Homo sapiens: one gene and its partners. The protein of the gene in region 1 interacts with the protein of each later gene in a pairwise test. Each region holds a gene or a part of one and is shown on either strand. Other genes may lie near its edges.

The links.
Region 2: the proteins of THOC1 (region 1) and GPRASP3 interact in binary tests that used the Homo sapiens proteins (3 or more experiments, as listed by UniProt).
Region 3: the proteins of THOC1 (region 1) and MTNR1B interact in a two-hybrid assay, tested with the Homo sapiens proteins (one large-scale study listed by BioGRID and IntAct).
Region 4: the proteins of THOC1 (region 1) and PRC1 interact in a two-hybrid assay, tested with the Homo sapiens proteins (one large-scale study listed by BioGRID).

Annotation. Positions count from the first base shown.
Region 1 is NC_000018.10:223,048-226,547, reverse strand, and holds part of THOC1 (THO complex subunit 1), read left to right. Parts: intron 1-1,144; coding exon 1,145-1,211; intron 1,212-1,408; coding exon 1,409-1,459; intron 1,460-1,553; coding exon 1,554-1,624; intron 1,625-2,347; coding exon of another isoform or gene 2,348-2,368; coding exon 2,369-2,464; intron 2,465-3,042; coding exon 3,043-3,108; intron 3,109-3,500. UniProt on the Homo sapiens protein: Component of the THO subcomplex of the TREX complex which is thought to couple mRNA transcription, processing and nuclear export, and which specifically associates with spliced mRNA and not with unspliced pre-mRNA.
Region 2 is NC_000023.11:102,744,743-102,748,242, reverse strand, and holds part of GPRASP3 (G protein-coupled receptor associated sorting protein 3), read right to left. Parts: intron 2,265-3,500; exon of another isoform or gene 2,069-2,264; intron 427-2,068; 5' UTR 332-426; intron 1-331. UniProt on the Homo sapiens protein: Survival and differentiation promoting protein that plays a role in the regulation of neurosynaptogenesis. Induces phosphatase PP2A activity which results in APP dephosphorylation and inhibits BACE1-mediated processing of APP.
Region 3 is NC_000011.10:92,979,651-92,983,282, forward strand, and holds the end of MTNR1B (melatonin receptor type 1B), read left to right. Parts: intron 1-1,796; coding exon 1,797-2,662; 3' UTR 2,663-3,132; downstream 3,133-3,632.
Region 4 is NC_000015.10:90,968,038-90,970,535, reverse strand, and holds part of PRC1 (protein regulator of cytokinesis 1), read left to right. Parts: intron 1-21; coding exon 22-132; intron 133-912; coding exon 913-1,089; intron 1,090-1,415; coding exon 1,416-1,457; intron 1,458-2,498. UniProt on the Homo sapiens protein: Key regulator of cytokinesis that cross-links antiparrallel microtubules at an average distance of 35 nM. Essential for controlling the spatiotemporal formation of the midzone and successful cytokinesis.

The DNA.
Region 1 (3,500 bases):
GGAGGTCTCTGCTCCAAAATTCCGTCATTCCCTTCTCACCTCCCTCAGACCTCCTCCAAAGCTGATTTGCAGACTAAGCCAGTAATACATATCTCACAAGGTGTGGAGCTCTGCAGGACATTCAAGCTAAAAGATGCAAAGAAAATTTTTAAGCAAAAAGGAGTTCATTTATTTGGGGTTTCACAAAACCTCATTAGGCTCTCTACTGTCTATCTAAATACTTCCATCCATTTCCTCCTATCCTGTCCATAACTGAAGGTGGAGCCCACTGTTACTTAACGGTATTTGTGTTAAGGACACTGAGCAATGCCGTATTAGTTGTATAATGACTTCACTACCTGCTGGGTTTGAATCCCAGGCTCGTCATTTGCTGGCTGCAGTGCAGCTCTTTCAGACTTGTAATTTTAAGGTAGTAGCACATGGTAAACACTCAAAAAATGTTATTTCTTATCCTTCTATCTATTTTGGAGGTTTGGTATAGCATAGTAGGAAGATGAGGGACTTTGAAGTGAGACGTGGGTTTGAATTAAATCTTTATGGCCTTGGGCAAATCAGTGAGACACGGTAGTCTCTGTTTAATATGTACATGTACTTGTTCCGAGAATTCAATGAATAATGTATGTAAAGTGTTCAGATCCTAGCCATCAATATTTATTGGATGTCTTTAAATCACCTAGTGCATTATGAGAGCTCAGTTAGTGGCAGCTATTAACAATTTGGGTTTGCCTGTTGCCTTTTCTAGGGTTTGGGTGTTTTATTCGTTGTATTTTGAATGAATCTTAATGTAGCATGCCATACTGAATGTGCATCATGTATACACATATCTTAATATCAAATCAGAAGTTTTCGTTTCACACTCAGCTTATTTTAGGAAACATATATTGCTCTGTTCATAGTGAATCTGATTGATTAATTGAATGTTTTATTCCCTGCATATGCTTTTATGTCTTCAGTACCAACCCTCTTGAGGAAGAAGTGCAAGAATTTTCTCTTATAATCCTCTCATTTGTGATTATTCTTGTCTTGGTAATTTTTGACACTATCCACAGTATAGTTACATGTTACATGCCTTGTGTTTTTTAAACCTTAAAGTTGCATATGCATTGCTGTAACTCAAGCATGCTTTCATTGCTTTGTTCCCTAGTTCAAACTATGTTTTAACTGATGAGCAATCACTTTGGATTGAAGATACTACAAAATCAGTTTATCAAGTAAGTTCAACACGCAACAAACCCATGATTGAAAAAATGGAAATTTAGGATTTTCTTTGTTTCAGCCCCAAATAGGAAAATAAGGATAAAGTTAAGCTCAGGTACAAGACCACAAACACTCCTTGGTTCTCTGCCTACAAACCACTCCTATGATGCAGAAAGTTGTTGAAAGCTTAGTATATTCTTTCTAATCACAGCTACTATCTGAAAACCCCCCCGATGGAGAAAGATTTTCAAAGATGGTAGAGGTATGTGTTTTTTATGCTTACATCCTCTTCTTAGCACGAAATAGAACTTCAGAGGATTCCACTAACCAAAATGTAATCGCTTTGTTTTTCCCAGCATATATTAAACACTGAAGAAAACTGGAACTCGTGGAAAAATGAAGGTTGCCCAAGTTTTGTGAAAGAAAGGTAAATACATACTGAAAGAAAGGTAAATACATACTCATCACAAGAACGACGAGAAAGGCTTTTGAAAATGTGCTCCGATATGATTATAGCATGTAAAAATACATGTATATATTTCACATAAAAAATGTAAGTTGAACTTTGTAAGAGTACAACCACTTTGATTTACCTCTGTATTTTTTAAACCTCATAAATTTCTTGTCATTAAATTCCTGGAACAAACATCTTATTATTGAGAAGAATACTGTATATCTACTCCGTGTAATTTGCCATATAATGTGGCATTTTTATCTTATATCTGATAATTGTTCTATCATAATATGAAGTTTTCATTTTTTTTTTTTTTTTGAGAGGGAGTCTCACTCTGTCACCCAGGCTGGAGTGCAGTGGCATGATCTTGGCTCACCGCAGCCTCCGCCTCTTGGGTTCAAGCGATTCTCATGCCTCAGCCTCCTGAGTTGCTGGGATTACAGGCGCCTACCACCATGCCTGGCTAATTTTTGTATTTTTAGTAGAGACAGGCTTTCACCATGTTGGCCAGGCTGGTCTCAAACTCCTGACCTCAGGTGATCCACCTACCTCAGCCTCCCAAAGTGCTGGGATTACAGGCATGAGCCACCATGCCCAGCCAGTTTTCATCTTTTTTAAGAGGAAAACAATAACTAAATTTTCTTTTACGTTAAACATTCTTCTATTTCTGTTATCCATTTGTAATTCAAAAAATAGTGTATGTTTTGTTCACGACAGAACATCAGATACCAAACCTACGAGAATAATTCGGAAGAGAACAGCACCCGAGGACTTCCTAGGGAAAGGACCCACCAAAAAAATTCTGATGGGAAAGTAGGTGAATTTGTCTTCATGTGGGATGTTCTTAGTTATTTTTATATTTTGAAGATGTTACTTTAAGAACTCTCCATCCAAAATATAGTATGAGATTGTGTTTGGTACACACATAGATAGCCAAAGCAAACCGCACTGTCTATACTGCCCATTGTGTGGGTTCATGCACCAGATAAACCTTCATTTTGTCTCCAGCTTCCAAAATCTGTGTCTCTAGGCTGTGCCATTTTTTCCGTTTCAGACAGTAGAATTGTTTAGATTCCAGTTGTTGCAAGGTACCATAATCCTTGAGTTCTCTTACCTTCCAGTTAACTATTCATTGCTTTATATTGTGCTGGAATATTTTTAGAAAAAACTAAAGATTATATCATTATCATTAGTCATGATTAATGATTATATGCTCATATAGAGAATAATTTTAGGTATTTTAAATACCAAAAATTATTGAGAAAAGTAAAACTCATACTGTCAACATCCCCAAATCCACTGTTTACATTGTATTGTTTTTCTGTTCAGTTTCAAGGCACATGAGGATGGTGTCCATAAAAAATGTATTTATTTCTGTGTCTATTTTGTAGTGAGGAGTTAACAAGGCTTTGGAATCTTTGCCCTGATAATATGGAAGCCTGTAAATCAGAGACAAGGCAAGTTGAACATTTTTCAAATGAAGTGTTGCTTTTGTCAAGTGTTGAGTAGAATGGAGCCTTTTCTCAGCTATGATCAGAGCTCAAATGAAATTTAAAAGTTTATTGTGGTTGACTTTTGGCACAGCAGCGTGTAACTTCCCACCATAAAACTCCTCAAAGTGCTGATAAAATAATTTTAGAAATCACAAAAAAATAAAGATTCACAAAAGGAATCAAAACTACAAACAGAAGAGTAAGCCTATGAACTGATACGGTTCTAGGGCAGCAGTACTAATGATTGCCAGCTTTGAGAACCAGGGAACTTGGGTTTTAATAGTCACAAAAGTTCGTTGAACTTGCAAAATGGGCAAGTTTAATAGCAGTCTAGACATAGGTAAAGTAAGAATTAA
Region 2 (3,500 bases), on another chromosome or scaffold:
GATTGGAGTTCTGAGTATTTGGTTGACAGACCTACACTCTAATCTCTAAACCCAATTTCTGCCTTTCCAAATCTAGGGCTTTGGTTATATAACACTTCTGGCCTCCTAGTACTCCTTGTGGCTTATCTTCCCATTTCCTGCCCCAATATCTACCAATTACCTCATAGGCATAATCCTGGCTCACCCCACCCCATCACTTGTACACAAATGTGAGGTCAGAGGTGACTAGAAAGATGGAAGACAGTGGCACCAAGATATGATCTGGTCTAACCCACTTGGCAACAGCCTTTCCATAACCCCAATCAACGGGGGTGCTCACACATAAACCTACCTTGAATCCAAATGAATAGTTTTTGTTCTTTCTTAATTAACTTCCAAGTGAACAGCTACATACAGATCTCTACAGGAACCTAGAAAGAAACAGACCTAAGGATAGAAAGGAAGGCAGAGGAAAGAAAACAGAAGAGACTAAGATGATCTAATGCCTATAACAAGGATTATAACATATGCTTTTGAATATTCAAGGCTATGTTAAATGTCTCCCACCTGTCTGCTCTTCCTCAATGATTCCCTAATCACCCCAAGACCTGCAGCCTGATTACACCTCCTGCCAACTTTGAAGTCAGTCATTTTCCCAATAGAAGTTACAGCTCCTTTCCTGAACCAAAAAAAATGAGGTGCAGAAATAGGTAGTGGAACATAGGCAATTGTACTTACAAGGCAGGCAGGGAACATAATGGAGACTGTTATTTTAATACCATCTGTGCATGTCCTTCCCCTTCCCCATGCATACCTAGATCCTACTTTATTCACCACCTATGTCAGCCTGCTTATACAGCAGGAGTTCTCAGGAGATGCTATCCTTCCCACCAAAGAAGAGTCACGCCCTACAAAAAGAAGGCGGAGCAACTAGCAAAAAATAACCCCAAGAGACTATGTTAACAATGGTAGAAAAATAGCAGGTTAATGGACAGATTCCCAGAATTCGGATTCTAACACCTCCTTTTTGAGAATCAGAAACTAAGTAAATAAAGTCTCCCAACTCTCATAGCTCCTCAGATATCCACCATCAGAAATGCCATGAATTCTTCTGTGGGACTATTTCTGCACCAAAATGAGAGGGTCTGTGAGGAGTGGCTGGAGATGGAGTTTTGGTTTCCAGAACCATAAACTGAAGAAGCAGATTGACTTCAAATGTTCTAAATTGACCCTTCAAAAAGATTACCCCTCTACTCGGAACCCACATTCTCACACATCATTACATTACTTAAAGTGGATCAGCATGTTGAGAAAACAGATCCTGAACAAGAAAGGTGGAAAAATACTACCCTGTTATTTACATGGACCACTGTTGTGAAATTCGACTAAGTCCACACCCTATTTGCTTGCACAAAACTGGATGTGGGGATCTAAATATGTAAGGCAATAAAACAGTGCGGTATTATAAAAGGCGGTTAAACATTTCATTTTAGTGTCTTCATAATTCACCCACTCAAAGTTCCACTTTTGGAGAACCCAACAGACCTATCACGCAGACAGGAGACTTTAACAACCACCTGGAGCCTGTGGGAAGGGACAGCACCCAAGACACGGGGTCCCACAGGCCCCTTTCCGGAATCAGGGCCCCGAGTAGCGAACGCGGCCCACCTCTCGTGGGCTGGGCACAGAGCTGGGACGCCGGCTCCCCCCGGCCTTCCCGGGAGCCCCCCACAATGGCTCCCGCTCCGCCATTTCTCCCGCAGGAGCTCCCCCACAGCCCTTTCCGGGCACAGACACCGTCGAGGGCGGGGCGCCGGCGCCTGCAAAGCTGGCTTGGAGGCGGTCAGCGCGGTTCTCCTCCAGACGATCTGACGGTGCCTCTCAAGCCAGCCCCTCAGCCCTTGGCCTGGCTCGGCCTGCACCGGTCACCGCCTCCCCATCGCCAGGGGTCTCGAGCACTGCGCACCTCTCTCCGGCGACCGGCTCCGACCGGATCGTCTCCTCCTTGCCAGGATGTCAGGGTCGGCGGGGCAGGCTGCCAGCCGGTCCACCCTGGCGGACCACCCCAAGCTCACGCACCCCCACTTGCCTTCAGAGGCCCAGGGCCCAGGTCGTCGACCTCCCCCTCCTCTCCTCAGCTCTCCTCTGGCGGCTCCTCACTTCGATTCTCACCGCTTTCCCCGCTATCAGAATGGCAAAGACGCGTCCCGCCCCCCACGCCTCTGCACCAAACTGGGCAGGGGCTGCGCAGGATGCTGCAAGAACCGCTCTCTCCGCGAGGGTGTCGGGAAGGGGGGCGGAGGGATACGGCGCGAAAGTGCTCGACGCCCCCCTCTCAGGCCCACCTTAGTTCCGACCCAGAGGTGGGCGGGGCCATGACGAGCCCCAGCCTGGGCCTGCGGGTTGGCACCAGGCTGCCTCAGGAGGACCCCCGCGGACCCTAACGTGGCGACCACCACCACCACATTTCTGGCGTTGCTATAATATAGGGACGGGCGGGCGGCTGGGGACCCAGGCAGGGGACAGGATCAGGAGGTTGGGAAGAGCCGCGCTGGAGGGAGCAGCGGATGGATACCAAACCGCCCCTTGGTGTGTCTGCACCCCCGCCCCAACTCCCCAACCAGGGACTGCTGGGTGTCTGCCCCTTCCCTCTCCCCAGCCCTCTCACTCTCCTTCCTGGAAGCTAATGGGAGAGGGGGTGTCAGCAGTGCAGTCTGGGAGGGGTGAGGCGATTTCAGGCCAAACAAGCCTGGGCCTCTAGGGTGGTCCTCTTGTGCGTTTCTTTCCCAGCTTCATGGAGCCACGCAGGGGAGGAAGGTACACCTGCTCTTAAGTGAATTCTGGGGCAGGGGGCTCCCATCAAGGCCTCACCACTGCCCCTCTTCTAACAGAAGGTAGACCTAGACCTCTAACCCTAGGAAACCAACCACTGGTCTGTACCAGACTCATTTCTTTCTGCCACGCCGCTTTTTCTCATTTCAAATGGTGGCTCAGGTTGGCATTGCGCCGTCCCCACAGTTGACCCCAAAAGAGGGCCTTTCCCTGTCAGGACTCGCAGGAGGTCGTAACAGTCCTCTCTCTTTGATGGCACCAGGTAGGGATGGTCTTGGCGCCTCTCCACTGTTCTGGGAGGAGAGGGGACCACTATTCGCGCACTTCCTCGAGGCAGATCCCAGATTCCAGCTGCGCTCCTCAACTCCTCCTTTTCTCCCAGCCTTGCACCCTGCCTAATGCATGCATGTGCTTTTTTCTTCTGAATATATATATATTTTTTTACTCTCCCTTCCAAGCGATGGGGAGTTTGACTTGTTAGACTGGAAGTTTCCTGAATGAAAGTACCCTTTTGGTATTGTTCCCCACTGTATTCTCAGCACATTGTAGACGGTATAGTCAGTCAAGGGTTGAAGGAGGTGAGGGGCTACTGAATCATGACAATTCCATGGTACCCTCTGTGGTTTGCAGATCAATGCTAATTCATAGGTGTGTCTTTGCTGCCTGTAACCCCAGGGCTTAGCCCAGAG
Region 3 (3,632 bases), on another chromosome or scaffold:
CCTGTCTCCCTGGTTTCCTAACCTAGCTGTGGACACAGTAGTATTATAGTTAGGTCTTGAGAACTCCCAGGACTCCAGTAGACTTGTGTGGGTTCTCAGTGGGGTTGACCCCATTCCTCTGAGGTCAAAATAGGCCCTTCATGAAGGCTTCCTGAGGGTCTTTCAAGTTCCCATCCCCATTCGGACCATGCTATGGGGAATCTTCTTTGAGATGGGGTGAATGTGGGAAGGCTGGAGGCAGTCCTTTTCCTACCCTTGTGGGTGAATAAGTCCAGGTGTGCCATCTACTTCACTTGAAGGGCTGACTCAGGTGAAATCCCAGCTGGGCGGCTCTCAGCCTCCCTTTTTCTGTACCCCGTGGAATCCACACAGAGCCTGGCCTCTCCAATTGCTGTGCTTTGGGGGCTCTTTCCACCTGCCTGACCCTCTAGACCCCCAAAGCCACCACAGCCTCTGTGGCAATGGGACAGACACATGGTGGCTGTGGAGTTTCCATGTCTGTGTCTTTGCTGACTTGGGAGTTCCTCCTGCACACCATCCCAGCCGCCCTCTGCATTCCGCCACCCTAAGGCTGGAGGCTTCACCATGTGGCAAGAGACCAGAAAATTTAAAATACCATGCCCAGTGCACATTGCATCACTCAGGGACCCTGCTGGAGGGAGAGTCTGTTATCTTTTGAGCATACAGTAGGTATTCAAAAAGTACAACACTTGGTGAATGAGAAGATTGGCATTAGTGATGGAACTGCTCACACTATGAGCTTTGTATTGCCCAAACGTTTAGGTTCTTGGTGCTCTATTCGTGAGTCAGTGTTGGTTTTAGAACGCAAACACTTGAGGAGCAGAGATTGTGTTCTTTTAGAGTAAGCCCTGCCTCTGCCCTGGGACTCCAGCTTAGAACATGCCTGAAGCATATTAATTGATGGGTGTATCATTTCCTGAGGCTCTCTCTGGTTGACCAAGCTTGGTGATGTTGGATAAGGCTCCATTCAAAGGATAAATGCCTAGATAGTCCAGGAAGGCCACCATGGTGCAGGCAAAGCAGGGAGGCCCCCCAGAGGCTGTGAGCTTAGGAGTGCTGACAGCCCTTTCTCACCCCACAGGGCTGGGGCTCTGTGCCGCTACTGCAAGTGTCTGTCAACATGGCCACAAGGCTGGGAGTACTGGACCCAGACAGGGCACAAATGGGAATACCAGAAACACATGGTTCCCACTCTCAACACCTTTCTTCTAGTCCAGCTGCAAAATGCAATTCACATTTACAAAACCCATGTAAAGACACTTAGAAAGTAGCCTGTTAACCAGTGGGGAGAAAATGCAAAAGGAGACAACCAGAGAGATGTGCGAGGAGGTGAGGGAATGTGAGGGAGCGATGATAGTGATGAGAAATCCACACTCCTGACTTTCAGACTCTCCTCCTCCGAAATCTTTGCTGGAGCTTAAATGGTGCAAAGCCCGTGAGCATCTGTGCCTATCATGGAAACAGTTAGCATGTGTCAGCACCTGTTAAATCCCTGAGCACTTTGTATCATTAATTCTTACAGCTATACTATGAGGTAGGTATCACTGCCCCTAGTTCACAAATGAGGAAAATGGGGCTCTGAGAGCCTAAACAGCTTGCCTCAGTCATATAGCTAGTGAGTGGCAGAAATGCAATCTGAGTCTTCAGTTCTGTGCCTCTAAGAGCCACTTGGTTTCCACTCACATTGCCAAAAGTAACTTCGTGGAGGGTAGGATGTTCTACAGAATCTAAGTCGTGGGGTCTCGTGCTGACTGTTGCTCTGTTTGCTGCTTCAGGTAATTTGTTCTTGGTGAGTCTGGCATTGGCTGACCTGGTGGTGGCCTTCTACCCCTACCCGCTAATCCTCGTGGCCATCTTCTATGACGGCTGGGCCCTGGGGGAGGAGCACTGCAAGGCCAGCGCCTTTGTGATGGGCCTGAGCGTCATCGGCTCTGTCTTCAATATCACTGCCATCGCCATTAACCGCTACTGCTACATCTGCCACAGCATGGCCTACCACCGAATCTACCGGCGCTGGCACACCCCTCTGCACATCTGCCTCATCTGGCTCCTCACCGTGGTGGCCTTGCTGCCCAACTTCTTTGTGGGGTCCCTGGAGTACGACCCACGCATCTATTCCTGCACCTTCATCCAGACCGCCAGCACCCAGTACACGGCGGCAGTGGTGGTCATCCACTTCCTCCTCCCTATCGCTGTCGTGTCCTTCTGCTACCTGCGCATCTGGGTGCTGGTGCTTCAGGCCCGCAGGAAAGCCAAGCCAGAGAGCAGGCTGTGCCTGAAGCCCAGCGACTTGCGGAGCTTTCTAACCATGTTTGTGGTGTTTGTGATCTTTGCCATCTGCTGGGCTCCACTTAACTGCATCGGCCTCGCTGTGGCCATCAACCCCCAAGAAATGGCTCCCCAGATCCCTGAGGGGCTATTTGTCACTAGCTACTTACTGGCTTATTTCAACAGCTGCCTGAATGCCATTGTCTATGGGCTCTTGAACCAAAACTTCCGCAGGGAATACAAGAGGATCCTCTTGGCCCTTTGGAACCCACGGCACTGCATTCAAGATGCTTCCAAGGGCAGCCACGCGGAGGGGCTGCAGAGCCCAGCTCCACCCATCATTGGTGTGCAGCACCAGGCAGATGCTCTCTAGCCTGGATCTGAGGCACACCAGCAGCATGACAAACTCATGAAATGGTGGGAGAGAGTCTGCTGCAAGGGTGAGACCAGGCAGCCTGCTGGGCCACACTGTCCTGTTGGCATCACAGCCCCAAGGCTGGGGGAACTTCATGCTGGGACAAGCAGCCCATCAACGCCATGGGTTCAGGCTGATCCAGGAGATGCTCACAGGCCACAGGACCTGGAAAACACTCTTGGTGGTGTCTTGGGGATTTGGTGCACACAAGACCAAGGAAAGGACAGAATGAGGAAAGGCCTGGGGCAGAAGAGCCCAACTCCTTCTCATAGCTGACCCTCATCCTCCTGCCTTGGCCTCCTGGCTGCTTTCTCCCCTTCCCCCCAGCGTGGCAGGATCTCTTCCTGTTAGCAAGGATGAAAGAGAGAGGTCAGTAGGACTGGAACTTGGTAACTGCAAGGGCCTCAGGTGGGGCAGGTGCAGAGGGCAAGCATTCCACACTCCGCCATTGACCTTCCCTACACACACACAATCACAACCACACATGCATCACACCACAGACACACCACACTATGCACACATACACTGTGTACACATACATATGTTACACACACATAGCCACCACATCACAAACACACTGCACCCCCCCCCCCCACACACACACACACAGTCACACTGCTCCAGCATCTGGAGCACAAAGTCCGCTTGGCCTCCTTTTCTGGTTCCATCATGTTCAGGTTGTGTGACTTGGGGAAAGTCTCCTAACCTCCCTGTTCCTCAGTTTACTCATCTTAAAGTGAAGATCATGCCGTAGTCAGCCTCCCAGGTTGTTGTGAGGATTCTCTGGGATAACACATCTGCAGAGCTGAGGACAGTGCCTGACATGTGGCTAGCAGGCAGTAATCATTAGCTTTTGTTATTATTATAACTACATAAAATGAAGGAGAAAAGTCATATACAAAGAAAGGAAGGGCTATCACCGGATGCG
Region 4 (2,498 bases), on another chromosome or scaffold:
CCCACGTGCTCTTCTCCCTAGCTGAACACTACCACCATGTCCAATGCTACGGCCAATAGTAGCATTCGGCCTATCTTTGGAGGGACAGTCTACCACTCCCCCGTGTCTCGACTTCCTCCTTCTGGCAGCAAGGTTAGTATGCCCTGTGTCTAAGCACATCCTCACATGCGTCCCTAGCCTGTTCACCCAGAGGCCCCACCTACTTGTTCTAGATTCTAAGATCCCTGGATTTGGTTCTTATTGAGATGCTGAGAGTTGACAGATATAAGCTAGCTCACCATTAAATAATGGTCCAAAACTAACGTGCAAAAAAAGAGAACAGTCACTCTGAGCCCCACTGGTACCATGGGAAGCACTGGGATGTGTCTGGGAAACTGAAGATCAGGCAGGGTCGCTGTAGACTCAATTCCAAGCCCAGTCCTCAGCTGGTATGGAGATAGGTCCCCTACATGTGGGTTCTAGCCCAGTGAAACCAGATCACTAGACATGCCAGGTACTCAGTAGAGATGTGGAAAGTATGTGGCAAAACACATTCAGTCTTTCAAATATTTTATTAGACTATGCTCAAGATAGGTGTTCTGTAAATCAAGAATTCATATTTAAAAAAAATTTTTTTCTAGAGACAGTGTTTTGCTATGTTGCCCAGGCTGGTCTCGAACATGTCGCCTCAAGCAATCCTCCTGCCTTGGCCTCCCAAAGTGTTGGGATTATAGGCATGAGCCACACCCAGCCCCATATATATATATATATATATATATATATATATATATATGTTTTTTTTTTAACTAAAAAGTATAGGATTATAGACATGAATATAAAGATAGTCTCAGCCTTTGACCAGTGCAGGTATTGTGTGTGCGTGTGCACGTTCATTAGAAGGATGATACATGGATCTCTTTCCTTTCTCTGCAGCCAGTCGCTGCTTCCACCTGTTCAGGGAAGAAAACACCCCGTACTGGCAGGCATGGAGCCAACAAGGAGAACCTGGAGCTCAACGGCAGCATCCTGAGTGGTGGGTACCCTGGCTCGGCCCCCCTCCAGCGCAACTTCAGCATTAATTCTGTTGCCAGCACCTATTCTGAGTTTGCGGTAATTCACCTTTTCTAATATCTACCAGTCTCTGGGGAGCACACAGTTGGGGCAGAGTGGGTATCTTCCCAGGGGCACCCAGGCTATTAGCTAGGGCAGCTACCTTGGAGGCTGAGAATCCCTTTCCTGCTTTGACCATGGCAGGGTGGGTGTGATTTAAGGGGGGGTTGTGTAGGAAGGAAGTTGGCAGCAGCAACTAGACATTTAACCTGGATCCTTCTGCTTAATACATACCATTCCCTGGCTGCAGGAGGCAACCCCTCTATCACTGTCCTGGTGCTCTCTTGGTGGAGTTCTTGGTAATTGTCTTAATTCTTTGTTCTTAGAAGGATCCGTCCCTCTCTGACAGTTCCACTGTTGGGCTTCAGGTCTGTATGGCAATCCCTGCATGTCCCTTTTCCAAACTGATCTGTCATCTGCTGGCTTCATTCATCTGGGCACAGGGCTACACTAACTAATAATCTCAGCAGTGTTACAAAGGAAGCAGGAATTCCTATCATGGACTCAAAAAAACACATCTGATTTACATTCACAACAGATTAATTAATAAAATTTGTTCAGACTTGAATTGGATTCTCAGCCCCTAAAGTCAGGCACAGTTTTAAATCACGTTTAACAGAAAACCTTGACCCTCCCCAATTGTGACATCAAAGGCCTGCAATAGCTGGAAAGAATAGAGGCCCCCAATCACATGGGGAAGGGAGCCCCAGCTGTGTGCTGCCTACAATGAGGCTCTTGGCCTGTGTGCTGATTATTTCCTGGAGTATATGCCTTCCTAACCCCTCAGGGCTTAACCGCCAGCTCTATTCTCAGCTAGCTAATGCTGATTTCCTCACCTTTGCCTCTTTCCATACATTGAGCTACTGAAGCATAGATGAAGCACTGGAAGCAAGTTTTTCCAGAATGCTCTTCACTTCCTAGTATCCTACTCTATATTTGCTAACACCTAACTACACTGCCTTTTACTTAATCTGTGATTTCTTCTCTCAATATTTTACTAGCAAGAGGAGAGGATGTTCCTCACCCTTGAGGGGATATTGAGTTAAACCCCTAGCCTGCCTCCCCTCTTAATTGCTGCAGGGATAGAGAATGGAACAGTTGGCCAAGGCTGCAGCTAGTTTTGATCACTGAAACTGGCTTCCTACTCCAGCATGTTTTTCAAATTACGTGGCTGGTGGTGCTTCTACCTTTAAAAGTGGGTGTGTGTCACTCTGGCTGATTGCTGGACAGAGGTCCAGCTTTCTCTTTTTCGCTTGTTCAACCAAGGCCCATTTTATCTGAGGCTTAAATGTACCTGCCTATCTGTGTGGCTAGTCCTAGGTAGGTTCGTCTGGTTTGGGTTGCTATGGCTGATAGACTCCACCAGGCAGCACCAAAGCCGGTAAACTAACCTCTGCTAATATCTGTCT